2 linked regions of the Homo sapiens genome follow. Each later gene encodes a partner of the first gene's protein in a complex. Links are inferred from orthologs where the notes say so. Each region holds a gene or a part of one and is shown on either strand. Other genes may lie near its edges. The genes, in order: CLOCK and BMAL1.

Region 1 (12,235 bases):
AAATTAACAGAATTACATCTCTGTGAAATATCCAACTAAAGTAATAACTCAGAGTTGAGGCTATAAGAGTAAGTTTAAATAATTCAACATTTGCATAATCAAAAAAATGGAAAAAAACAGGAATCTCGGTATCCACCTGTTTCACAGAAGTTACACCTAATAGGGCTTTTAATAAATGGTTGTAAAGCAACCTGTAAATATAAATGCCATTATGTAATTATAGTCAATTAGTAACAATTATATTGCTCTGACACTTGAGTGTTCTATAAATAATTCATACAACTCCATCTAGAATTTTTGATCCAGAAAAGGAGAAAATGCAACAGCCATTGGTGTAATGCCTACAAGGAACTTAAAAAATATTTTACTTTATGCATCTGTAAAAAACTATAAGGAAACAGATAAACATCAAAAGGTTTAGCTACAGTGCAGAACTTTGACTTTTCCCCCACAATATTGTTTTATTAAAATAGTCACAGTAAATAAATGCTTTATTTGACACAGCACTAGAAGTAAAAATGTGTGGAAGAGGTGACATAATATATATGCTTCAAGATTGAGATAAGAGGAAACAATTTTCTTTTAATATTAACACTGGCTGACATATTTGATGGTAGACAACAGTTAACTGATAGGATTTAATTTCCTAATTTTTCTAGCAATCCTGAAATGATTAAAGAGGCTGTATTATAATTATCAAATAAAACATCAAATGGTTCTTTCCAGCGGGAAAGCTTAAAAAAAACTACTGAAATAGCTATCAGTCTCACAGATGCCTGCTAAAAGAACATAACAACTCCTTACGTTATCAAGAGCTAAGATCTAAGTTTCCTTTCTTAACTAATTAAAAGGTTAAGATACGTATTCTCCCTCAAAATCCCATGCCTCTCCCCCCACCAAAAAAAAAAAAAACAGCCAGAAATAGGCTCATCCTTACAAATGTTGTATGTAATTTTCTTATAAAATCTATCATTTTCCACCTTGTGTTATAATGTCTATGCTTTTCAGTTGGGCATGGTGGCTCATGCCTGTAATCCCAGCACTTTGGGAGGCCGAGGTGGGCGGATCACCTGAGGTCAGCAGTTTGAGACCAGCCCGGCCAACATGGAGAAACACCGTTGTCTACTAAAAATACAAAAATTAGCCGGGTGTGGTGGCAGATACCTGTAATCCCAGCTACTCTTGGAGGGCTAAGGCAGGAGAATCGCTTGAACCAAGGAGGCGGAGGTTGCAGTGAGCTGAGATCACGCCACTGCACTCCAGCCCGGGTGACAGAGAGAGACTCTGTCTCAAATAATAATAATAATAATAATAATAATAATAATAATATTATTATTATTATTATTATTAATGTCTATGCTGTTTTAACCATACTAGATTTCAAAACCACTGAAGGCAGGGTCAATTATACTGCATCTTTCTAGGTATCTCCCATAGTAAATAGTCTTGATCAATACTCTGAACTTTTTGCAAACTCCATCAGCTAAAAAGAATTAAGGTTTGGTAATTCTTTGTAACCTGGTTTAAAACAAACCCTCTGGAACTATTAGAGAACCAGAGGGATGGATGGAGGAGAGGGTAGTGCATATTAGTTGTTTGTTGTCAGTTAAGCAAAAGCCAAACCAAAGAGCCTCTTCTCTCCTTTTCCCTTCAAAAGCTAAATTTTATCCAAGTCAGTATCAGTGTCCCTTAGTTAAGGACAGTCTGCTTAGGTTCACTTCAGAGGAGCTCAAGAGGCTGGTGTAATCTACGAGGCTTTCGTAGGAGTCTGCAAGCAAGTACAGAAGGAAAAAAAATCAAAGTTTAACCCATACACTATCGATCAAGTCAAAAGCCAAAGAAAACCCTAAAACTTGGACTCTAAAGAGTCCTATAAAATTCATGGAATCCAAGCACCTTTTGGGTTTGTTTTGTTTAAAACAGGGTGTCACTCTGTCACCAAGGCTGAACTCCTGGGTTCAAGTGATCCCTCCACCTCAGCCTCCCAATTAGCTGAAACTACGGTGTGCACCACCCCATCTGGCTAATTTTTTTTAAAAAAATTTTGTAGCAAAGAGGTCTCACTATGTTGCCCAGGCTGGTCCTGAAATCCTGGGCTCAAGCCATTCTCCCACCTCGGCCGCTCGAAGTTTACAGTGAATTAAATCTATACCAGATAAAACTCACATCAGTATGACCTCCCTTCAAACTCTGCAAATGCCTCCATAACAATTGGCCCCTCACTAGTGAAAAGATGAGTATGACCTATGGTCTATATCAGATGTTAAGCTTTCTGACAGGCTCCAAGTCATGTCCCTGTCCTGTAGGTAATAACAGAGCCCATACTGGAGGCAAAATGGCAAAGCAGATGATCATTCAAGATGATTCCGTTTTCAAGGCTGAAAAGAACATATTTGCAAATGCACAGAAAAAGATCTACAAGATCATACAGTGGTGTTAACAGTGTTACCCTTCAGTCAAGGGTATACGAGTAGCTGTGCTCCCTAGATTCCTCTGGGGAGGAATGTGAGCTAGAAGTGGATGTAAAGGGGTTGTCACTTATTATATATACACTGTATTAACTTTTTATGAGCATCAATTTACTTCTGTAATTTTAAAAATAAGAGTCCCAGCTACTCGGGAGGCTGAGGCAGGAGAATCTCTTGAACCTGGGAGCCGGAGGTTGCAGTGAGCCAAGATCGTGCCACTGCACTCCGGCCTGGTGACAGAGCAAGACTCCGTCTCCAAAAAAAAAAAAAATTGAAATGTAATTCCATTTTTAAAAAAGATTGAACGGACCCACATGGAATTCAAATGAAAAATAAGTGACACTTTGCAGAAGTCTATTAGAAAAACCTACATATCAAACAGAAATAATATAAGTATCCTATCCTACAAAATAAAAAGGAATACTGGTAATATTACAAAAATGCCCACAGCAACTGCAATCCATTACTCACTATTCACTACTTTCATTACACAATATTAGTCACCAGGGGGAGTTTGAGGGTCCCCTCCCAAAATTATATCTCATCTAACAGCTGCCTGTGCAGTCTTAACCTCATTAAACAGGTTTTCAACAATCCAGTCCTAAAAAAATGTTCATTTTGTACACTTTCATGAGAAACAACCAGACACACACACACACACACACACACACACACACACCCCAATTTACCTTTCACTGGGGTTCATGTTTGATTTCCTCAAAAGAAAGAAAAGTTTCCCAACCTGAAAAGCAAACTAACCTAGACAATCAAGTTTACTAGCACTTTAAGGGAATGTTCACATCCTCCTCATAATTGTTTGTCATGAAACTTTGGGGTTAAGTAAAATTTTACCCATCTATGACTCCTGAAAAAAAGAGGAGGGGGAAACACAAACTACACTCTGAAAGCAGCATAATCCAGCCATAATGCCAAATGTAAACAGTCATATATTTTAGCAAGGCAAGATATAACTAAACATCTTTAAAAGATAAATGCCTGTGACCTCTGCAATCTTAAAAATTAAAGTGTAAATAGTCATAAAAGGTATCCCAAACTTCCTTTTTAGTTGATTTTCCTAAAAAATATGAAAAGCAATCATATTGAAAATGACTCAAATCACCATAAATTAGGCAACAAAAATCACACAAATTATTTGGGGGAGGAGGATTTTTGTTTAATCCAGTTTATGAGTCCATAATACACACAAAAATTTGAAAACATGAAGACATACACATAATACATCTCATTTCCCACCATTCCCTCAGACTATTTCTCCCTCTCCTCTATTGTTAGTTTTCTAAATCCTCCCATAATTTCTTTATATAAAGAGCAAACATAAACTTGTATTATTACACCTCGCCCTTAAGATGTAACACACTATTCACAAAGTACCGCTACACCTTGCTTTTTTCACTTCATAGCAAATTTTTGCAATCTTTGCATGTTAGTACGTAGAAAGCTTCCTTATTCTTTTTTCATAACTGATTACGCCTAGCTTTAGAACATTTTCAGTCTGCTTTCTTCAGGCTAACTTTTTTTTTTTTTACTTTTTTTATTATTATACTTTAAGTTCTAGGGTACATGTGCACAACGTGCAGGTTTGTCACATATGTATAAATGTGCCACGCTGGTGTGCTGCACCCATTAACTCGTCGTTTACATTAGGTATTTCTCCTAATGCTACAGGCTAACCTTTCAAGACATTCTGTTCAGCCAACCACTTATCACAGGAATTAATTTCCTTCCCCCAAGCTTTGAAAACCAATCAGATTTGAGGTGTCCCAAGGGATAAGTTTCAGAGAAAGCAATTCATTATCTAAATTACATCCTTTTAAGAATGTTTATTTTCAAACAGGTAGAGGGGAATATTGCACAATTTTCTCTAATCGCTTAAAGCTACAAATCAGAACGCAATCTTCAAAGTGAAATTACCTTTGATTTGGGGGGATCAGCGTTATAGTCAAATCAACGACTGTAAAAGTTTACTTCTTGTGCTTTTCTTCCACTGTAAAAATTTTTTTATTTTTTAAAGAAGGCTAAAAAGCCTTAAAGTCTAATAGCACGGCATTCTAATAGCAGGAAACCACAATCTGATTTGATCTTTCATCTGCCAGGTCAGAGACTAGGCTTTTATCTTGCAGAATTAGGCTCACCTACCATCAACAAGAGGACCTCTACAAAGCTACAAACACTTTCAAAGAATATAAACTCTGCGGCGCTGCGTGTAGGAAATTACACTCCAGGGGCCAGAGCGCCAGAGCCAACTCCAGAAAACCCAGCTTCACTGGCGGAAAGAAATCTACAAACGCCAGCGGCGGTGACGGGGAACGGGAAGCGCGGGTGGACGGAAGAAGAGAAACCGAGCGCCTCGCCGCCAACCCTCGAACCCGCGCGCGGTCGCTGGAGTCAGACGCTAATAGCCGCGCGCTGCCTAGGAACGGAACCCCGGAACCACCACCACTAACGGAACCAGCCCGCGGCCGGCAACGGCGGCCGTTCGGACTGCGGACTGCGGCACGCGGGCCGGGCGCCGGGAGGGCGGGGGTTCCCCGGAGGAGCTGGCCGCCCCGGCGCCCCATTGGGCGCTGCTCCAAACGTGCCCGAGTGGTGACAGGAATAAAGTGGGTCACAAGGCCTAGCGGGTCCCCAGCGAAAGCTCTCTCGGCACCCGGTCCCCGTCTTTCCCCGCCTCCCAGCTGCTGGAATCGGCCGCAGCTCCGGGCGCCCTCAAGCCGCCCGGCCCCGCCGTGCACCCCACTCCCGCCCCTGCCCCGCAGGTAACCCCAGCTGCCCCAGAGGGCCTCTCAGGCAGGGCGGGCCTCGGCCCGAAGTCCCGGGAAAAGACACACTAGAACGACACGCCAAACTTGGGCTTCAGCTCCCGCCTTCCCCACCCTTGGCCGCCGCCCCCCGGCCCCACACACGCCGCCCCCCGCTCCCTCCCCTTCCCCGCGCCCTCACCGTGTGGCTTGCGGCGGCTCCGGCTTCTTCCCTCCCCCACCCAGGTCTCCCGCTGCGGTGACTCGGAACCACTACCCCGCCTGTGTCCAGGAGGCGCCGCGGCTCCCACCTCCAGCAGCACCTGGGGCTGTGAGTGGCGCCCCCCACCCACCCCCCCAAAAATTCGCCGCTCCTGTGGCCAGCTCCTCCTCCCCCTCCCTTCCCTTCCCCTCCTCCACCAGCCCAGGAGCGCGCATGCGCCGCCAAGGAAGCCAACCGGCACTCGGCAGGCCCTGGGCCCACCGGGCGGGCGCCTCTCACCGGGAGCGCTCGCGGCGGCGGCGGCCAGATTTCCTTCGCGCTCTCGCTCTCCGGGGTTTCCTTTTTTAAACCGGCAGCCGCAAGCCGAGTCCGTGATTGCGCCCCCTCCCGGCGCATGCGTCGTCAGCGACCCCGCGGGCTCAGACGGCCGGCGGAGGCTCTGCGCTCGCCCCTCCCCTCACTCTCCCTTTCCCCAGCGCGGCTCGGTGCGCATGCGACTTGCCCCGTTAGGCAGCACGGAGCCGCGCCAGGGGATCCCGGACGCCCGAAGAGACTCCCGCGCCCCTTGGGCCGAAATCTGGCTCTGCAGGCGCACCGTTCCCTGCCCCGGCCGGGAACGGCGCCGGTTACTAGAAAGCCGGGGAGGCGGGGCCTGGTCGGGTGGAGGGCGCGGCCGGCCGGCAGAGCGCTAGCCTTAGGTCCTGGAGGCTCTTTGGCTTTCCCCCCGTATGCCGGGGGCTAGGAGGAGGAAGAAGAGCTTCCTGCCGGATGAGGGATCCAGAGGCCAGAAAAGGAACCCGCTCTCCCTTCCAAAGCAAAACACTGCCGACGCCAGCTTAGATTTTTCGGGTGTTGGCAGGAGACTTTTTCCCCCAGTGGCATCATTCGTGTTTCCTCTCCTGGTGCTGGGAGAGAAGAGTTGCAAAGGCGCCTGGACCGCCAGTAACATCTTCTCCCATCTCCTGAGGGAGCGCGGCTTGGGTTGCTTCTTCTTGGTGGGTGGGCCTGGGGAGACAGGGCATGCGCCCTCGGCCAGAGGAGGGAAGCGAAAGGAGGTCGGGATTTATTTGCTCATTTGGAGATTTTTCCCTTGCCCTTTTATTAAAAATCAAGTGACAGTGTAATGGAAGATGGAGAATGAAGCATCAGAAATAAACCAGGACCCTAATTTGCATGGATTTCCTCGTTGGAACAACGTGTGACTACTACTTATCTTCGGGAAATTACTTATCTTGATGCGTTAAGGCACATTTGGTCCACATGAGAAAGCACATTTCAGTGCTTCTACTGGAAAAGAGATCTTTACAGTCTTAATTCCTAGTAATTCCTATGTTTTAATGAATATCTTTTGGATTTGAAATAAAAGCCATCTTTTTCTTTCAAAAAATGCACTTTTCTGGCCGTAAAATCCTCCCTTTAAAGTAACAGTCACCTCAGTAAACATTTTCAATTCTTGCTGTATGCTCTGGGCAAAAGAACATCAAACTGAAGCACTTATTCAGATCCTTGATCCTGCACCTAAGGATTTTTCTTTCAGGAGTGGGAAAACATGATTTGTTAATTTACCCCATCATATAGCAGAAGATATTTTGGTCGACATTTTTGCCTGTTCAGCATTCATTCCCTATTCTGATAATTTCTTTTGAAGAACTATCATTTATCCACTCTCAGTCCATATGGTCTGAGCAGGACACAAGGGGAAGGCATATTTGAGTTTAATCCTCGGTTGCAAACTACGGTTCCTAAGAAGGGTGTTACGTCTTTACCAATGGGTTTAAATCTGGGAGAATGGAGACCTGGAGCCATCTTTCCACACGTGAATTCTGAGAAAGAAGGCAACACGGAAAAAAAGCAGATTTGAAGACAGGTTTGGCCTAAAGACATGTTTGAGGCCTGGAAACAAATGTAGATTAGATTCCTCTGGAAATTTCGTTAAACCAGTCAGTAAATTCTTGCATCTGTTTTATTGCTTAAACCAGTGAGAGGTTTTCTTTCACATGTAATCAAGAGTCCCGACTGACAAGAGGTAGGTAGCAAGACGGAGGCAAAGTTATTAATACTGATAAGGTAGGTTGCAGCCAGACAAGAGAGGGCTTGAATGCTTTCCCTAGGATGGATTTTTGAATTTTATTCTAGAGACACTGATCCCTCCTTATATTCCCCATCATCTAGAACATATTATCTTCAAAATACCTTTGCCCTTTTTAATGATTTCATTGTCCTCTCAGTCACCAAGATCAAACCATGTCCATCTTTGACTCCTCCCTCTTTCACTGTATTTAATTATTTACCAAGACCTGTTGATAATCCCCCGTTTTTCTGCTCAGTCCTCTCTCACTGCTTGAACATTTCCCATGGTTCAGTTCACAGCTTCTCCTTTCTCCCACATTCTCTCCAAGAAAAGAAAAAATGTACTGGATATGTCTTTTTTTTGAGACAGATTTTTTGAGACAGAGTCTTGCTCTGTTGCCCAGCTGGAGTACAGTGGCATGATCTCAGCTCACTGAAACCTCTGCCTCCCGGGTTCAAGCAATTCTTGTGCCTCAGCCTTCCAAGTAGCTGTGATTACAGACTCCCACCACCACACCAGCTAATTTTTGTATTTTTAGTAGAGATGGGGTTCCACCATGTTGGCCAGGCTGGTCTTGAACTCCTGGCCTCAAGTGATCCACCCACCTCAGCCACCCAAAGTGCTGGGATTAACAGGCGCGAGCCACTGTACCCAGCCTGTATTGGATATTTCCAATAGCTTTTCCAACTTCCAGATCCCACATTTCCATAAAACAAAAATCCTGCCTCATAATTTCATAGCTCCTAAATTTATATTCCATAGCCTTAAACATAATTTCAGATATTCTGTTCACCCTTTCTTGTGAACCTTGCTATCATTTAAACTGAGTATTTCCAACTCCTCTGTCAACTGATTTCCCCCAGTTGGTAGGCAACGTATCATAGTGGTTAAGAGTACAAAATTAGGATCTTAACTGCCTGGATTTAAATCATAGCTTCACCACTAATATTCTGCATGACTTTAAGCAAGTTATTTCTCTGTTCTTTAATTTCGTCATCTTTAAAATGGGATAATTACAATCCTATCTCATAGCTTAACCGAGACAGTGTGTGTGTCTGTGTGTGTGTAATTTTATCTGGTACATAAGAAATCCCATAGAAATGTTGGCTATTCTTGTCAATGATGTTCCTTTTTGGGTAATTTTCATGTCTCTTTTGCTCTAATTCTTGCCCTAACTCCTATGTCCCATCAGTCACAAAGTCATATCTGTTCTTTCATAGTAACTCATCCATTCATTGACATTCCTAGTTTTACTACCATACTTTAAGGTGAATTGGAGAACAGGAAGCTTTAAGATATGCTTAATAGAGAATATAAGGTTAAGTATTTTTTTAAAGCTTGCATAGTTTATTCAGTTACTCATATTCTTTCTAATCCCTTTAAAATGGAACTACAAAACCCTGCCTCATAGTTGAGGTAGTATTATAGACTTTGTGGTCAAAACTCTTGGCTTAAATTCTGACTCATGCTGAGAGATAGTGAGCAAATCAAGTAATTCCTCTGAGCTTCAGGTACTTATCTGTAAAGTTACAAGACTAGGCATTTCAGAGAACTGTGATGATCAAAGGTAAATTAAACTGCTACATAAAGGCTAGGTGGTGACGATGGTGGTTGTAAATCTTTACAATTTCTTGTTGGAACCCTAAGAATAGTTGAAATGACTCACAGATTTTTAACTCCAGCCTTCACTTCTCCCTTGGGCTCTATACACACGTCTGTTTATCTACCTGATGTCTCTTCTTCTGTATCACAAATATCTTGGATGCTTCTTTCAATCTATTCTCCACAGAGCAGTCAAATTATTTTGAAAATATAAGTGAAGTCACATTATTTTCTTCTAAAACCCCTTTTGTCATTTCCCATTACATACAAATTCCTAATTATGGTCACAATAACCTGTTTGATCTGGCCCCTCCCTACCTCTCCAACCTCATGTCTTACCATTTTTTTCCTTTTCCTGTGACACTCCAACCCAGAAACTGCCTTTCATTTCTTTGCTAATTTATCTCTGCTCTCAGGCTTTCATGCATGCTGTGCCCTTGCCTGGACCCCTCCTACCTTTTCTCATGGCTGGCTCCTTCTCAACCATCACATCTCAAAGATCTAACTACCCTATTTAAGTAGGTCTCCCTCCAACACCCCACCTGCCCCCCCACCACCAATAATATCCAAAGTTATTCTCTTCTGTTGTGTCCAGTTTCCCCCATAATACTTAAGTTTAAATTATGTATATATTAGTTATATGTATATATGATATTTGTTTTCTTATTAACTATTTTCCCTACCACCACAAGATAAACTCCAGAAGGGCGAGAACCATGTGTTTTCTTTGCCACTATACGTGTAGCATCCATTTCAATACCTCAGGTGAGCTGGGTAGAGTGACACGTACATGTAGTTCCAGCTGAGCCGGGAGGATTGCTTGAGCCCAGGAGTTAAGGAACAGCCTGGGCAATGTAGCAAGACCCCATCACTAAAATAAATTAATTAAAATTTAAAAATAAAAACCAGGTTGGGTGTGGTACCTCAAGTCTGTAATCCCAGCACTTTGGGAGGCCAAGGCAGGCAGATCACTTGAGGTCAGGAGTTTGAGACCAGCCTGGCCAACATGGTGAAACCCTGTCTCTACTAAAAAATACAAAAAAATTCGCCAGGTGTGGTGGTGCATGTCTATAGTCTGAGGCTTAGGCAGGAAAATCACTTGAACCTGGGAGGCAGTATCTGCAGTGAGCCCAGTTCGTGCTGCTGCACTCCAGCCTGGGTGACAGAGCAAGAGTCAGTCGAGGCAGGATAATCACTTGAACCTGGGAGGCAGAGGCTGCAGTAAGCCCAGATCGTGCTGCTGCACTCCACCCTGGGTGACAGAGCAAGTCTGTCTCAAACAAACAAAACCACCAATGCCTGAGGTGAATGAATGATTTAATGAGTGAATGAAATGCCAGAAAGATGATTTTTAGAATCATCTTTGTCCCAAATTATGACTGTAGGCAGATTATTGTCAAGGGGTAGCCTTAGTAATGTGCATGAAAGTGTGTCCGGAATTTATTCCTTCCGGTGGGTTCCTGGTCTCACTGACTTCAAGAATGAAACCATGGACCCTTGCAGTGAGTGTTACAGCTCTTAAAGATGGTGTGTCTGGAGTTTGTTCCTTCAGATGTTCAGATGTGTCCAGAATTTCTTCCTTCCAGTGGGTTTGTGGTCTTGCTGACTTCAGGAGTGAAGCCGCAGACTTTTACAGTGAGTGTTACAGCTCTTAAAGGTGGTGTGTCCGCAGTTTGTTCCTCCTGGTGGGTTCATGGTCTCGCTCACTTCAGGAATGAAGCTGCAGACCCCCACAGTGAGTGTTACAGCTCATAAAGGTAGTGTGGACCCAAACAGTGAGCAGCAGCAAGAGTTATTGTTAAGAGTGAAAGAACAAACCTTCCGCAGTGTAGAAGGGGGGGCCGAGCAGGTTGCTGCTGCTGGATTGGGTGCCAGCTTTTATTCCCTTATTTGGCCCCGCCCACATCCTGCTGATTGGTCCATTTTACAGAGCACTGATTGGTCCATTTTACAGAATGCTGATTGGTCCATTTTACAGAGTGCTGATGGTGCGTTTACAATCCTTTAGACACAGAGTGCTTTAGACATAGAGTGCTGATTGGTGTGTTTACAATCCTTCTTAGCTAGACACAGAATGCTGATTGGTGCGTTTTTACAGAGTGCTGACTGGTGCATTTACAATCCTTTAGCTAGACACAGAGCGCTGATTAGTGCATTTACAATCCTTTAGCTAGACACAAAAATTCTCCAAGTCCCCACCCAACCCAGAAGCCCAGCTGGCTTCACCTCTCAAAAGTACAAAAGAGAAGCAAACTAAAATCAGTCAGTGAAATATGATGTGACTAATACCGTTCTAGTGATTGAATACTTGAGAACCAGCAAGAATATGTAACACTAATAGATACAGCTAATACTTGTAAAAAAGATGCTGACTGAAATCTAAAATAGGGTACAAGTGCATGAAGTACCTCAACTTCTAAACAGCTGCCAACATTTGGGGTCAGATACCCACTCCTTCACCCAAGGATAAAAGTTGGACAAAAAGGGATCTACCATAGCCAAAACCTCCAACTCTCTACCCTCAGACCACATAAGTTCAACACTTGGCAAGAGGAAAAACACCTGACAGAATCACTGAAGCCAGGTTCCTGGGGTGTACTATGGTTTTTCCTTTCCTTTTTATGCCTCACCCTATCCCAAGTGAACAAGACTCCAACAGAATCAGCTAGGTGACTATGAGGGAGGGAGAGTGGCATCTCATTCACTATCAAACTTGCTGATATTGCCTTGTACCTACATGAAACAGGAAAAGAGTTGGAGAAATAGCTGGCCAGGGAGTGGGCTGAAATAAAGCAATCTGCAACATCTACCATGTGGTATAGCAAGGATACCGAGGATGTGTAAGTTTCTCATGGGTCAATCGATGCTGCGTAGAAAATGCTGTCCAGGTTTGAACTATCTTGATCCTGAAGGGGGAAAGAAATTCTAGCAGCAAGAGGCTGGATTTACTTCTGGGAGAGGAAACTAAGAGAGTTAGCAGAGATAGAGCTAAGACTGCTCCATCGCCTGTGTTGATCGAGGGACTGTGCAGTTGGGAAGCTGTTTCAGAGTTTCTAGGAGAACTCAATGTGCCCCATTAAAGAGTGAACATTTGGATGCAGTATTCATTGTA
Region 2 (12,443 bases), on another chromosome or scaffold:
AAGTAATATCACTTGATTATATTTTCTTGCCCTTCTCTGGTAAATGTGCAAATGTATGATTTTGCAGTAGATGAATAAAAGAAAATGTACATGCAGCACAGGAGTCAAAAACAACAATAATAAAAATACAACCCAAACTAATGGACTTTATTCATACTCAAGATTTAGATGGTTTTATTTACAGTAAGTTTTATTGTCAATCTTTTGTTAGCTGGAGTGCTATCAATTTATGACACAGATTTTGGCTCATAAATTTCCCAAAGACCACTTATCAAGCTATAGTCACTTGTGGTTTTGTATTTAACTCAAGTGCATATAATTTTCCATGTCTTTAAAATAAGTTTTATGGCAGAGAGAGAAGCAGCAGCAGGAGGAGATAACATTGAAACCTTATAAGAAAAAAATATGTAAGTTGTATTTCCTGTCTATACCAGCTGATTCTTTGAAACCCAGTGTGGTAATGAAGTAGAGTAGGAAAGCTGTGGGCCAGTCCCATTAGCCTACAGCTTCCAGAGGGCCCTGAGGTTTAAAAATCCCAAAGGATGTTCTTTTCAAAACTGTTTACAGATGAGCCTCAACTTACGATGGGGTTATGTCCCGAAAAACCCATGGCAAGTCAAAAATATTGAAAGTTGAAAATACATTTAATATCCCAATATGCCAATCATAAACTAGAAAAATCGTAACTCAAACCACTGTGAGCCCAGGGCCATCTGTATAATAAAGAAACATTAGGAACTATGTGAACGCTTTCAATGAGAGAGTTTTGCATGAGGTATAGTTTCTCCATACAATAAAAATGCTGCAGCCATTAGACAGCCAGTTGTAGAAGGAGGCTCAATAACAAGAGAGAATGCATGTGATAATTTTTTAAAAGCAAGATGACAAAACTTTGATGGGATAAAAATTACATCAAAAGAGCTGGGTGTGGTGGCATGCCTATAGTCTCAGCCACTTGGGAGGCTGAGGCATGAGAATTGCTCGAGTCTAGAAGTTCGAGTCCAGCCTGGGCAGCATAGCAAGACTCTGTCTCTGAAAAAGAAAAAAATTAGGTCAAAATAGGATATAGTTACAGAAAAAATACATTGATATTTTAATGTGGGTTATATCCGCTTAATGGAATTATAGATTATTTTTATTTTCTTCTTTATGTGTGTGCTTTCCAAATTTTTGATCACAAATGTAAATTGGTTTCATAATCTAAAAAAAAAGCAATAGATGTTCTTGTTCTTCCAAAGAGAAAGGAGAGATTTGAGTAGCAGTCATTCTTACAATGCACACACATCTGTATGCAGGATGAGAGTTTTCCTTAGGTAAATTCTGAGTCTGTAGCTTTTATATGAGTGGAGCAAAGGACCCAGAGCTCACTGCAGAGGATCTAAACAACCTTTGATGCTGGAGATCGTGCTTGGTGATTATAAACTTTTATTTTTAAAATACCAAACGAGAAAGAGAGGGCCAATGAAGTAAGACAATGTTACAAGGAGTAGCTCTTTATAAGGAGTAATTCTATCAATGACAGGTTAAATGACATCACTGCTTACATCTCACCACGCCAGCTGCTGACTTATTAACTGGAATGTGTATATGGTGCATTAATAATGTGGTGTGGGGCCTGCATGCTAGTTGTTCCTTTATTTCGTTTATATGGAGAGTGTGTGTGTGTGCATGTATGAAATCCACCTTTATTTTCATGGCCTCTGGATTTTGTGTTATGCTTAGATGGGCCTTTTAAGATTATAGAACTTCTACTCATATTTTTTTCTAGTGTTTTTATAGGTTTGACTACATGCACTTAAATTCTCTTTTCCTATGGTTTATGTTTTAATGTAAGTACAGGGTAGGGGGCAAATTTTATGTGTTTCCCTATGGCTAGCTAGTTGTTTCAATAGCATTTATTGAAAAATCCATCTTCTTCCCAATCCTTTAAAATTCACTTTATAACTCAATTTTCCTATACTTTGGGTCTATTTCTGGATGCTATGCCTTTTAATTCGTCTATTGGTCTGTTTCTATACCAATACCAGACTATTTTATTACTATAGTTTAATAGTACACTTTGATAATGTATGAGATCAAATTCCCCAGTCTATCCCTTCTTTCCTTTTTCAAAAGCATATTGTAAATTTTTTTGAGCTAATGCATTTCTGAAATGGCTTGCCTGAACACTTCACTTTGCTATACTAACTAGAATGGATTCTTCCTTTCTTTTATATTCTCCAGAAAGTGAACTCTAGTCTGCTCATCCCAGTGAAGCTGGGCAAAATTGATGCCAGTTTTTTGAAGACAGTGTCTATCTGTTCTTCAGAGCTTCTGTTGAGAAGCCATGTGGCCACTGGTGCTTTAGCTTCCTCTAGCCAAACGGAAAAGCCCCTTTCACATCTGAGCACCAAGATCTTTGGAATCTTGGCCATGTCTGCAAGCAAGATCTAGTCTAAAGCCTAATTACACAGTCTAGGACACATTCCAAATGAGGTATTACTGCTCTCCCATTCTGAGCTGCTATGGCCATCCCATTAAAAAAAGAGCCAAGGAAGGTCTTTTCAAAAGCAGCTGAAAAAGCTATAAACACTGGTTAACTCATTAATGCCTGATTTTTTTTTTAATTCCCATTTTTTGTACACCCAGATGTCAACCTTGGTTAACAGATCAAACCATTCACAAATGTCAAATCCCAAAGAAACGCAATCAGAATCTTCCAGAACAGGACTCTGAAGTCTGTATTTTTTAAAACTCCCCAGGTAATTCTAATGGATCCAATCATTGGATCAGAGTCAGGGAAACTACTGTAGATTATACTACTTTATCCTCACTAACTTCATCTGTAAAACAGGAGCAAGAAATATCTATTTCATAGAATTGTTAAGAGTGATACCTAATATGTATCACATCTTGACTGTATGCCAGGCACTGTGTTAAGGGCTTTCCATCTATCATCACATTGAACTCTTATAACAGCCCTATGAAGTAGACACTAGATTATCCCCCTTTTACAGATGAGGAAACTGAGGTACAAAGAGGTTAAGCAATTTGATAAAAGTCATCCAGCTAGCAAGTGTGGAGGGCAAGCATATCAACTGCTAGGGTTAACGTGAGGATTATATTAAATAATGTATTTAAAGCATCTGGTACACAGTAGGTGCAAATAAATGCTCTCTCTTATCTTCCTTTTATCCACATGATTCTACTCATGCCCAGTAAAATTTACATTGAGGACAATATTTTGACCTTAGCAGTGCCCTATGAATTGAAAGTTCAGTATCCTGGAAAGTAGAAAAGAAAAGGGAAGTTAGGTAGTAGTGGAAGGAGGTGTTTGGGATCTCCAACAGAGAGAACCACAAAGAAAGGTGTAATTACACAGGGAAAAACAGGTGCACATGAGGGAAGACAGTTGCTTGGCCACTGAGGGTAGGATAAGGCAGGGTGATAACCTTTAAAAGAGGAAAGCCAGGGTACAAGATGAGAATCTCAGAGGAAGGGAGTCCACAAAGACACCTATTTCAGCCCGCCTCCCACTGCATGGTAATCCAATTCTCACTTGGACATTTTTTGTGACAAGAAACTCAATTAATCAAGGCAGAGGATGCTCTAGCTGTTAGAAAATTGTTCATATTGATTCATTCTAGAGTTTCTACCCACAGGTTCTCCTTCAACCCCTTAAGGCCCTTAAGTATAAGTTTAATTTCTCTTCTATTTGACAGTTCTTCACATATATCAAGACAGTTACCTTGTACCCCTGGGGCAAAACCTTCTGCTTCCTTTAATATTTCCTCATATGACATAGTTTCTAGCCTCTTTACATCCTGGTCCCTCTACTTGTGCATGTAGATAATTTCTTTCTGCCAAGTCTTAATTGCAGACAATACTTCATGTGGGTACTGACCAACACTGGGCAGCACAATAACACCTATCTTGCTTTACATGTCAGACTTCCACTGATGCAGCCTAAGAGCGTTTATTTATTTTGGCAGCCACAATTCACTGTGGACTCAGATTATTTGTCACCTAAGACCCTTTATCTTGCTCCTGTAAGCATCTAAGACACCTCTGCCTCCGGCTGGCTTCACACAGGGTGGGACTCCACATTTACCCCTGTTAGAGTCAGCCCACTGCTCCAATATTGTATGTGGTTTGTGTAACAGCGTCTCTTCCCCTCCTGGCTTTGTGTCATCTGGACATGTGATGCGAATCTTCTGGATTTTCCTTCAGAACACTGATAAAAGTTCTGATGTCTGGACCTGGGAGAGAGGCTTCTGTCATTCTGAGGGTAACTGGTGTGGTATAGAGGCTTTGAAATAAAAAGAAAAAGTCTAGTTTGAATCACGGCTCTGCCACCTACTGTGTGACCTTTGGCCAGCTAGCTAAATTCTGAGTTTCAGTTTCCCCATCTGTAAAATGGGGCAATAAAAGCTTCCTCACAGTGTGGTTATAAAGATTAAGGGAGAACATGAGGGGAAAGTACTTAGCACAGTGTCTGGTACGTAGTAGGTGCTGCTGGAATGCTGACTCCCTGCAATCTTCTTTTCGGTCAACGTCGACTCATCAATCAGCATCTTTAGGTTATGGTTACTTAACCAGTTATTAGTCCAATTAATGATACTAGCATCCAGCCCATATTTCTTCATCTTGTCTATGATATCTTGTCAAGTGCTTCGCTTAAGTCCCACTTACCTAGAGTGATCTCCTCATGAAATGGGGGCAGAGACAAAGGAGCAATAAGATTCCACCTGCGTGTAAACTTCGGAAAAATAGCAAGCTACCGACGGAATTGCTTGACCTCGAAAACAGTCAGCATTCAGACCACAAGCACATATTGGGCACTCCGTGCCTGTCAATGAGCTGGGGATGGGCAATGGTGTTACAGAGATTAAAAAACGCAGTGTCTGTGTTCAAGGAACTTACCAGGCTAGAAGTCTAGAGTCACGGGGGCCAGTCTGGGTAACAGAATTAGGCCAATTTATTTAATTCCATTTGTTCATGTATCCAGCCAACAGATATTTATGGTGCACTTGTTGGGTGCCAGCCCCGCCCCCACCACTCCACCCTACCCCAGCAGGCGCTAAAGGAGAGCTGACATGATGGATAACGAAAAAGAAGACGCTGTCCTTCTATTCAGGGAGTTTAACATCTGGAAGAGCCGGGAGTTCTTTGTGCTAAAGGCCCTCTACAAAGTGCCTGAGATGCAAAAATAAGTCACTTTCTCTGTCCTCTCAGCAACCGAGTCGCATGTCGTTATCAAATTTTTATTTTCTGTAACTGTTTCCTTCCGTCTTGCTCCGTAGACAGCTTTTTGCAGCAGAGAGCGCTGCCGCGGGGCTGGTGTCTACTCTTCAGTAAGTGGTCAAAACCTGGCTACTGGAAGGAAATGCAATGGAATCGCTCCGCGCTCGAGTATTCTCTTTGGAACTACGGGAATGACAGCTCCAGTGGGACACTTGGAGGTCATGATGAACGCAAAGAACGTGAGAACACTTGCAGTCCTCGGGGTGGAAATGCCTTCTAGAAATACTAAGTATCCGTTCTCTCGTTGAGACTTTGGCAAACCAGGGATTTTAGGAAGGGTCTGGCACTCAACGTTCCTAAAATTGGTTTCCTAGATGGAGCCGGAGGGAGAGAGGGAGTCAGGAACTGCTGCTTTTCGTCGGAATGCCCGGAGGGGAGAAGAAGAAGGAGGAGGGGTGAGGGCGGGCGGCCAAACGCCAGCCGGCAGGGGACCCAGAGAAGAGGGACATCCCGGGCGACCCCGAGGAGCGCGGCTTGGGCACCGCAGTGGCCGCGGCTAGTGGGAGACCTGAGGGGAAAGGGAGAGGGCAGGGGCGAGGAACCCAGGGAGCGCGCGCGGATTGGTCCTCTCCTCGGGGCGTGCGCTCCTGTGCGCCAAATGATTGGTGGCAGGAAAGTAGCAGGTAAACCGGCTCCCGCCGCCTCGCCATTGGTCAGCGGCCTCTCTAGCCGCCACACAACTGGCCAGCGGGCTGCCGAGCCGCGCGCGGATTGGCTGGGGGCGGCCGCCGGGACCGGCTCCCTTCGGGCGTTCGGATTGGCTGGCGGGAAGAGGCAGGTATCCGGGCGCTGCGGCTCCTCCATTGGTGGGCGGGGAAGGGGGGTTGGGCACAGCGATTGGTGGGCGGGGGGCCGGGCCTGGGCCGGCGGGGAGCGGATTGGTCGGAAAGTAGGTTAGTGGTGCGACATTTAGGGAAGGCAGAAAGTAGGTCAGGGACGGAGGTGCCTGTTTACCCGCGCCGGACTCACCGCCGCCGCCGCCGCGGGATCCGAGTGCGGGCGCGGGCGCGGGCGCTCCCGGCGAGCCACGGTGAGTGTCAGGCCGGCGGCGGCCAGCGACGCGATCCCGCGCACCCCGTCGGGGGCCGTTAGCACCCTCGCGGGCGCTGCGCCCCTGCCGCCGCCCCGGGGGCAACCCGGCCGCCGAAGAACCCTGCCCGACGTGCCCGCTGCCGGCCTTAAAGGGCCCGTGACCGCTCCCTGCCCCCACCCGGGCCGTGGGGAGGCTGCGCCCCTTAAAGGCGCCGCGCCCGTCCGCCCCCATCCTCCTCGCGGGGGCTGCCGCTGCGGGCTAGGGCAGGCAGAGGTGCTGCAGGAGCCCTTAAAGGGGCCGGGAAAGTGTTCGCTGGAGTACCCACCGCCCTTCCGCGGGCATCGCTACCTGGCGGGGGGAGGGGGCAGCTAGCTGCCTCTTAAAGGGATAGCTCTGCCCTTGGGGGCAGTGACTCGGCCGAAGAGGACTCCTAGATGTGTCCCCGGGAGCTTCGGGGATCCCCGAGGGGACCATGCCTGGTGGCTGCCCCTCAAGGGCGTTGGGCGAACGGTGCCGCGTCTGCCCTTCCTCCCCGCTTCACTTCCCTTTCGGGAGCCCGCGAGGCTGGGTGGGGGCGGGGAGGGCGTCTCCGTCGGGCTTGGGGAGTCCAAGTCCGCCCGCCCCTTCGGCCCTGTAGCCAGGGCTGGCGCTGCACCCGGGAATCCCCGGCCGGCACGGGGCCGACCCCAGCCTGCGAACTTTCGTGGGGCCTGTGCCGTCCAGGTCCTGGGCGGCCCTCAAGGATGCCCCGTGGGTCTGCGGGCAGGTGCGCGTCGGCCTGGGGATGTCGCCCGGAGCCCGGGTGCGGGCCGGCCTTGGAGTCCCAGAGCTCCGCGGAGGGCGCAGCGAGCCTGGCTCCAGCTCCGGGTTTGACAGATGTCAGGGAAGAAAAGGTTCCCGCTCGGCTATTGCCGGGCGTTGACATCCCAGAGAGCTTCCCGTTTGCTTGGAAGAAGACGAGGAAGGTAGAGGTGAACGTCGACCTTGTGGGGCGCATGTTAGCCTCCCCGAGGGGTCGCGAGAGCCGGCAGCGGGGTGAGCTCAGGTGCCCGCCGGCAGGAGCTGGGGAGGGAAGGGGAGTGCTGGACACCGGCGCCTGCTGTCAAGTTCTCGCCGGCCGGTGAGAGACCCGCTGCCGCCGCGCACCCCGCACCTCCTGACCCCTCTCCCCTCTCCGCCTCGGCCCCTTCCCGGTCACCTAGCGTTGTTTTGGCGCTTTGGCGCTTGCGGTCTCTTCCTTCTTCCACCGCTACTCCTCAGCGAGGAATTATTAGCCAAGTTTTCTCACCCAGCTTCCAAAAATCAGATTCCGTATTTGTGAACAAGCTTTTCTTGACACTACCCGTATACCCGTATTTCCAGCATCGTCGTTTTATTAAACATCCATAAAAGCTGCCCCTTAGATGCATTCATTTCCCACGACACCTGCTTGCTTGTCATTTGTCCTTCTGACATCTGCTGTTGTTCACCCCTTTAATCTATTATTAAATGACAACTATTATTTTAATTCTTCTGGTCTCATTGATATCCGGATCTGTGAATTTGGGTTGGTGGAGTTTTTAATTAATGTACCCGTTGAATCATGAGCTTAAAATAATCATTGCTGCTCCTGAGCAGTTTTGAATAATATCATGCTCTCTCTGCTTGCAAGACTTAAAAAAATTCGCTGGTGTTATATTTGATTTCCATATCAATGGAATTCCCAAATATTTTTGAAAATACAAAATTCAGTCTTTCAGTCCATGTTTTGTTACTCAGATCATTTTACTGATAAGTCTTTAACGCAGCTTATAGAACATATTTAGAAGGTTTGGAAATTTCCTGGACAGGATTTGAAATTGCCTGTATCATCTGAAGCTGGTTCTGTAGAAGCATTTTGGTTTTGATTGTAGATGCAGCCAGTGAATGATAACAATAAGTTAAAACTGTAGTTAAATTTGTTCTTTATTCAACCCTCTGAAGAACGAACAGATCTGGTAGAAAAGCACTAACCTGGGAGTTAGGAGCTGGACATCCTGGTTCTAGTTTAGGCTTGGGCTCTCATGGCCGTTCCAGTCGGGGCAAGTTATTAAAGATTTCTAGGTTGTGTTTGCCTCTGATGGAAAGTAAGACGGTTGAACTAGGTGATCTCAAAGGTTCCTCTCTTTTGAAGTTCTGTAAGTCTCTAAATATTTAATACATTTGAATTCAGGTTGGTATTTACCTCCTGGCACCTCCAGAATATCTGAGCTGAAGCCCTATTTTCATAAGAAAGTTAAGCAGATCAACAGATGGTGTTTTGAAGAATCCATTTCAAATGATTTATAAAATGATGACTACTTACGAGTTTGTCTGCTATTTGCAGAAGAGGTTTGCATGCCACAGGGCAGGAAAAGGAAGTGGCCATGTTTTCAGATTTATCCCTTCACACCAACAATCTCTGTGGAATTTATATGCTAAAAGATGGAGAAGCACCATAGAAAGATTTGGCTGTATTAACAAAACTGCATATGAAAAGGTAAAAACTAGATAGTTAATATCTCTCTTTGGTGTAAGGGTTATAATGTATCTGAGCTTTCTTTGTGATTTCATCATCAACTCTCACTGTGGTAGGAAAATCAATATTAAATAAACAGTTTCAGCCCCGTGATTACATGCAGTGATTTTAGGAAGCATCATGATAACTAAAGTAGGTACTTGCAGGGAAGTAAAATATCCTTTCTAGACCTTGAGGTTTCGTTGGGAGCTAGGGACACAGGCATGTTATCCTTCTCCACAGTCTTTTTTCATTGTCACCTTATCACAAGACTCAGATTTATCCCAAATACCCACCTTGTCTTTTCTTCTCCCTCTCATGAAATAAGACCTGCTCTGACTCAACCCCCTCAGCATCTCTTACTTCCCACCCAAAATGTCCTGTCTCTATCCCCATCGTCCCCTCATCTCCTCCCAATTCAGAGAAAGCAAGTGGACCTCTCCTCTGTTCCTTTTCTTGGCCTCTCACCATGGGCAAGTGCCTGGGCTCTGGTGGCAGAAGAATCCATGGCTCAGGTTTGGGCTTTGTGGTCTTGGATGTGTGCTTGACTCCTCTGACCTCAGGTTTCTCCTCTTGGTGTAATGGCAGTGCCTGCCTCGTGGAGTCTGTGTGAGGATTAAGGGAGATGGTGCATGTAAAAGGCCTGGCACACAGGAAGCCTTTCCTTTGTGCCAGCTGCCATTCCTTCTCACCTCTACCCGGGTCCTATCACTAGAATATTATTTGTGCTGTTTGTCCTTAGTCTCCCCTGCCCCACCCTGAAAACCTTAGGCTTGACTTAGGAGAGGAAGGATGGAAGAGGCAGAGTCAGACTTGTGGTGAGCCTGCTGTGTACCAGGCAATTTACATGTGTCTTTACTTGGTACCCTGGGTTCGTAAGCCTCTCTTTCCTCCCTCCTGCCAGCCTCCCCCACTCTCCCATCTCCTGCTCCATTCTTAGTACCTGCCCTCTGGCTTCTCTCGCTACCACCTTTCTTTATATTTCTTCTCAAAGTTTTCTCCAAAACTTTGTCGTGAGTTCCTGGGGCCCATCTGCCCATCCTTATTCCTGAGTGGTTGTTCTTGGCCCCTTTGCAGTATTTCTTTTATTTTTTTAAACATGGTCTCAGTCTTGCCTGGTTGGAGTGCAGTGGTGCAATCGTGGCTCACTGCAGCCTCCCAAGTCTCAGGTAATCCTCCTGCCTCAGCCTCCAGAGTAGCTGAGCCTACAGACACGTGCCATCACACCTGGCTCATTTTTGTATTTTTATTAGAGATGGAGTTTTGCCATGTTGCCCAGGCTGGTCTCAAACTCCTGGGCTCAAGTGACCCACCTGCACTGGCCTCCCAAAGTGCTGGGATTACAGGCGTGAGTCACTGTGCTCAGCCCCTTTGAAGCTTTTACCTCACTTGTTTTTTGTCCTTTGAAATCCTTTCCTCTCTCAGCCTTTGGGTCATGCTGGTTTCTTGATTCTCTTCCTGCACCCCTGTAAAGATAAATGTCTGTCCTAGCTTCTGCTATTCACACTGTCCGTGGCCTGGGGTCCCCTCTCTAGCCCTGACCTGTCTCTCCTGTGTTCTGCTAGCAGGTCCGTTGTGGACATGAATGGCAGCCTGTAATCTGCATTTGTGGTCTCGGAGTTACAGGTTTGCAGACTGCTTGCAAGCACTGTCACATTGAGTCCTCATGACACACTGGAGCCTACATCCCTTCATTCCCCAGGCTGTCCTAAAAGGCAGTTTGGTTGGGTAGTTTAGCATACAGACTCTGGAGCCAGATTTCACATCCTAAGTATTCCCTACTGGCTTCGTGACTTGTGGTCAATTTTCTTTTGCTCTCTATGCCTTGGTGTCCTCATCTATAAAACTGGGATCATAGTAGCCCCTACATCAGAGAGTTGAGGTGTGGATTAAATGAGTTAAAGCATTGGAAAAAGTGTGCCAGTCTATTCATGGCACATTGCAAACACTCAGTGAATGTTGCTGTCAGTCTTGCTGCTCTTCGTTGCCTTGCCGGGGTGCCTTGGCCTGGTTTGTAGTGGTCTCCACATTCAGCCTGCCTGTCTGCCAGACCTTGCCATGTGCCTGGACACTGTAGTCAAGCTGAGGGGCTGTCCATTCCCTGTACCAGCCCTTGGCCCAGTCCATCCCTCAATTTTCACGTGTCCAAATCCTCCTCTGCTTTTAGGACCCAGGGCCTTGGTCCTGCAGCACTATTTCTTCATTTTGTTTTCCTTCCTCCCCACACCTGGCAGCAATGTCCACATTGATTTTTCTCCAATTCTCTTAGGTTCTGCTGCATTCCATATTGTGTTGGGCTGTCTCTGAAAATATCTCACCTGCTCGCTCAGCCTGAGCATTCTGGGAGAAGTTTATCTTGCTTTTTCCAAAATGACAGGCACAGGGAGCCTTTAGGCCATGGTTGTCCAATGCACATTGATCTTGTGGAGGAGGAGATGGGATGGGGTGGGCACTCAGGGACGGAGCAGGTGGAGGGAACAGGATGCACACTGCATAGAGGTGGGGGTGCAACAGGGCCATAAGTGGACATGGCCGTAAGTACTTAGGTCTGCATGGAAGGAGGGTTTGAATTGGGGACTTAACCTCAGGGGGAGATAAGATTGGATAAGGTTTAGTCATCTTTGCTGCAGGGGAACGTTGAGTACTGGCATGTAATGGAGAGTGGTTTTTACCTTAGTATGTGCTGTCCTTTTAAATAGTGTAAACTAATTCTTTATCTAGCCTGGTTAAAGAAGGGGATGGCTGGTCTGCCTAATTTAATATTTGGCTATTGCTCTACCCACTGGGTTTTGTGCATATACTGAATGAAGCATTGGCTTGTATTTATTCCTTCAATCACTGTTTGAAATGTCTGACCTGGGCAAGTTAATTAGCTTCTCTGAGTGCAAAATAGGAATAATAATTATTACGATAATAGCAGCTAACATTTATTGAACACTTTCTATGTGCCAGCACATATGTGAGTCACCTTTGCTTATTAACTCATTTAAACCCCATAACAACTACATGAGGCAGGTACTATTATCCTTACTTCACAAATGAGGTGGTTTTATAAACTGCCCAAGGTCACTCAGCTGTTATGGCTTGGGGCAGAATTTGTGCTGGTGAACTCCAGAGTCTGCCCTGTAACACCCTAGTAGATTCCTACTGGGAGGAAACACCCCGTTATATCCCTTACCTCACTCAGCCGCACCATGCCAGGAGCCTAGTAGGCTGACAGCAATTGGGAACCAGTCTTATTGTTGACAAACATGGTATGAGCCTCTTTTAGAGCGGAGCTGCCTGAAACCCTCCGCATAAGGGATGCGGACCTGGATGCTACCTGAGCAGCAGCTCCAGGGGCTTGTGAACATTCTCCTCACATCCTGTTATGCATGGCTGTCTCTCTGGCCTCCCCCTGCTTTCTCTGCAGCATTGCTCTGACCCAGGCCCCCTGTGGCTCAGCCAGCTCCTCCCCAGGCAGCTCCTTGTGTGAGATGAACCTTTTAACATAACTCACTAACCCCACCTCCCACCCTCATCTAGCCATCTGCAGAGCTCCTCACTGGGGAGGGGACCTTTTCAAAGGTCCCTCACCTTCGTCCTTTTCTCCCTGAAGACCAACGTCCACAA

The links.
Region 2: the proteins of CLOCK (region 1) and BMAL1 are in contact, whole or in part, in a crystal structure (PDB 4F3L), measured with the Mus musculus proteins. The link is inferred for Homo sapiens from one-to-one orthologs. Residues at the interface, in NP_001276755.1 of Mus musculus: Arg46, Gln49, Phe50, Leu53, Ile54, Glu56, Leu57, Met60, Leu61, Pro62, Lys70, Ser71, Leu74, Gln75, Ser77, Ile78, Phe80, Leu81, Arg82, His84, Lys85, Thr88, Glu95, Ile96, Gln98, Asp99, Trp100, Pro102, Phe104, Leu105; in XP_030097882.1 of Mus musculus: Lys70, Met71, Phe74, Ile75, Glu77, Leu78, Ser80, Leu81, Val82, Asp93, Leu95, Leu98, Arg99, Ala101, Val102, His104, Met105, Lys106, Leu108, Arg109, Gly110, Ala118, Tyr120, Lys121, Pro122, Phe124, Leu125, Asp127, Asp128, Glu129.

Annotation. Positions count from the first base shown.
Region 1 is NC_000004.12:55,541,053-55,553,287, forward strand, and holds the start of CLOCK (circadian locomoter output cycles protein kaput), read right to left. Parts: upstream 5,858-12,235; 5' UTR 5,730-5,857; intron 5,565-5,729; exon of another isoform or gene 4,401-5,564; intron 1-4,400. UniProt on the Homo sapiens protein: Transcriptional activator which forms a core component of the circadian clock.
Region 2 is NC_000011.10:13,271,611-13,284,053, forward strand, and holds the start of BMAL1 (basic helix-loop-helix ARNT-like protein 1), read left to right. Parts: upstream 1-6,179; 5' UTR 6,180-6,313; intron 6,314-12,443. UniProt on the Homo sapiens protein: Transcriptional activator which forms a core component of the circadian clock.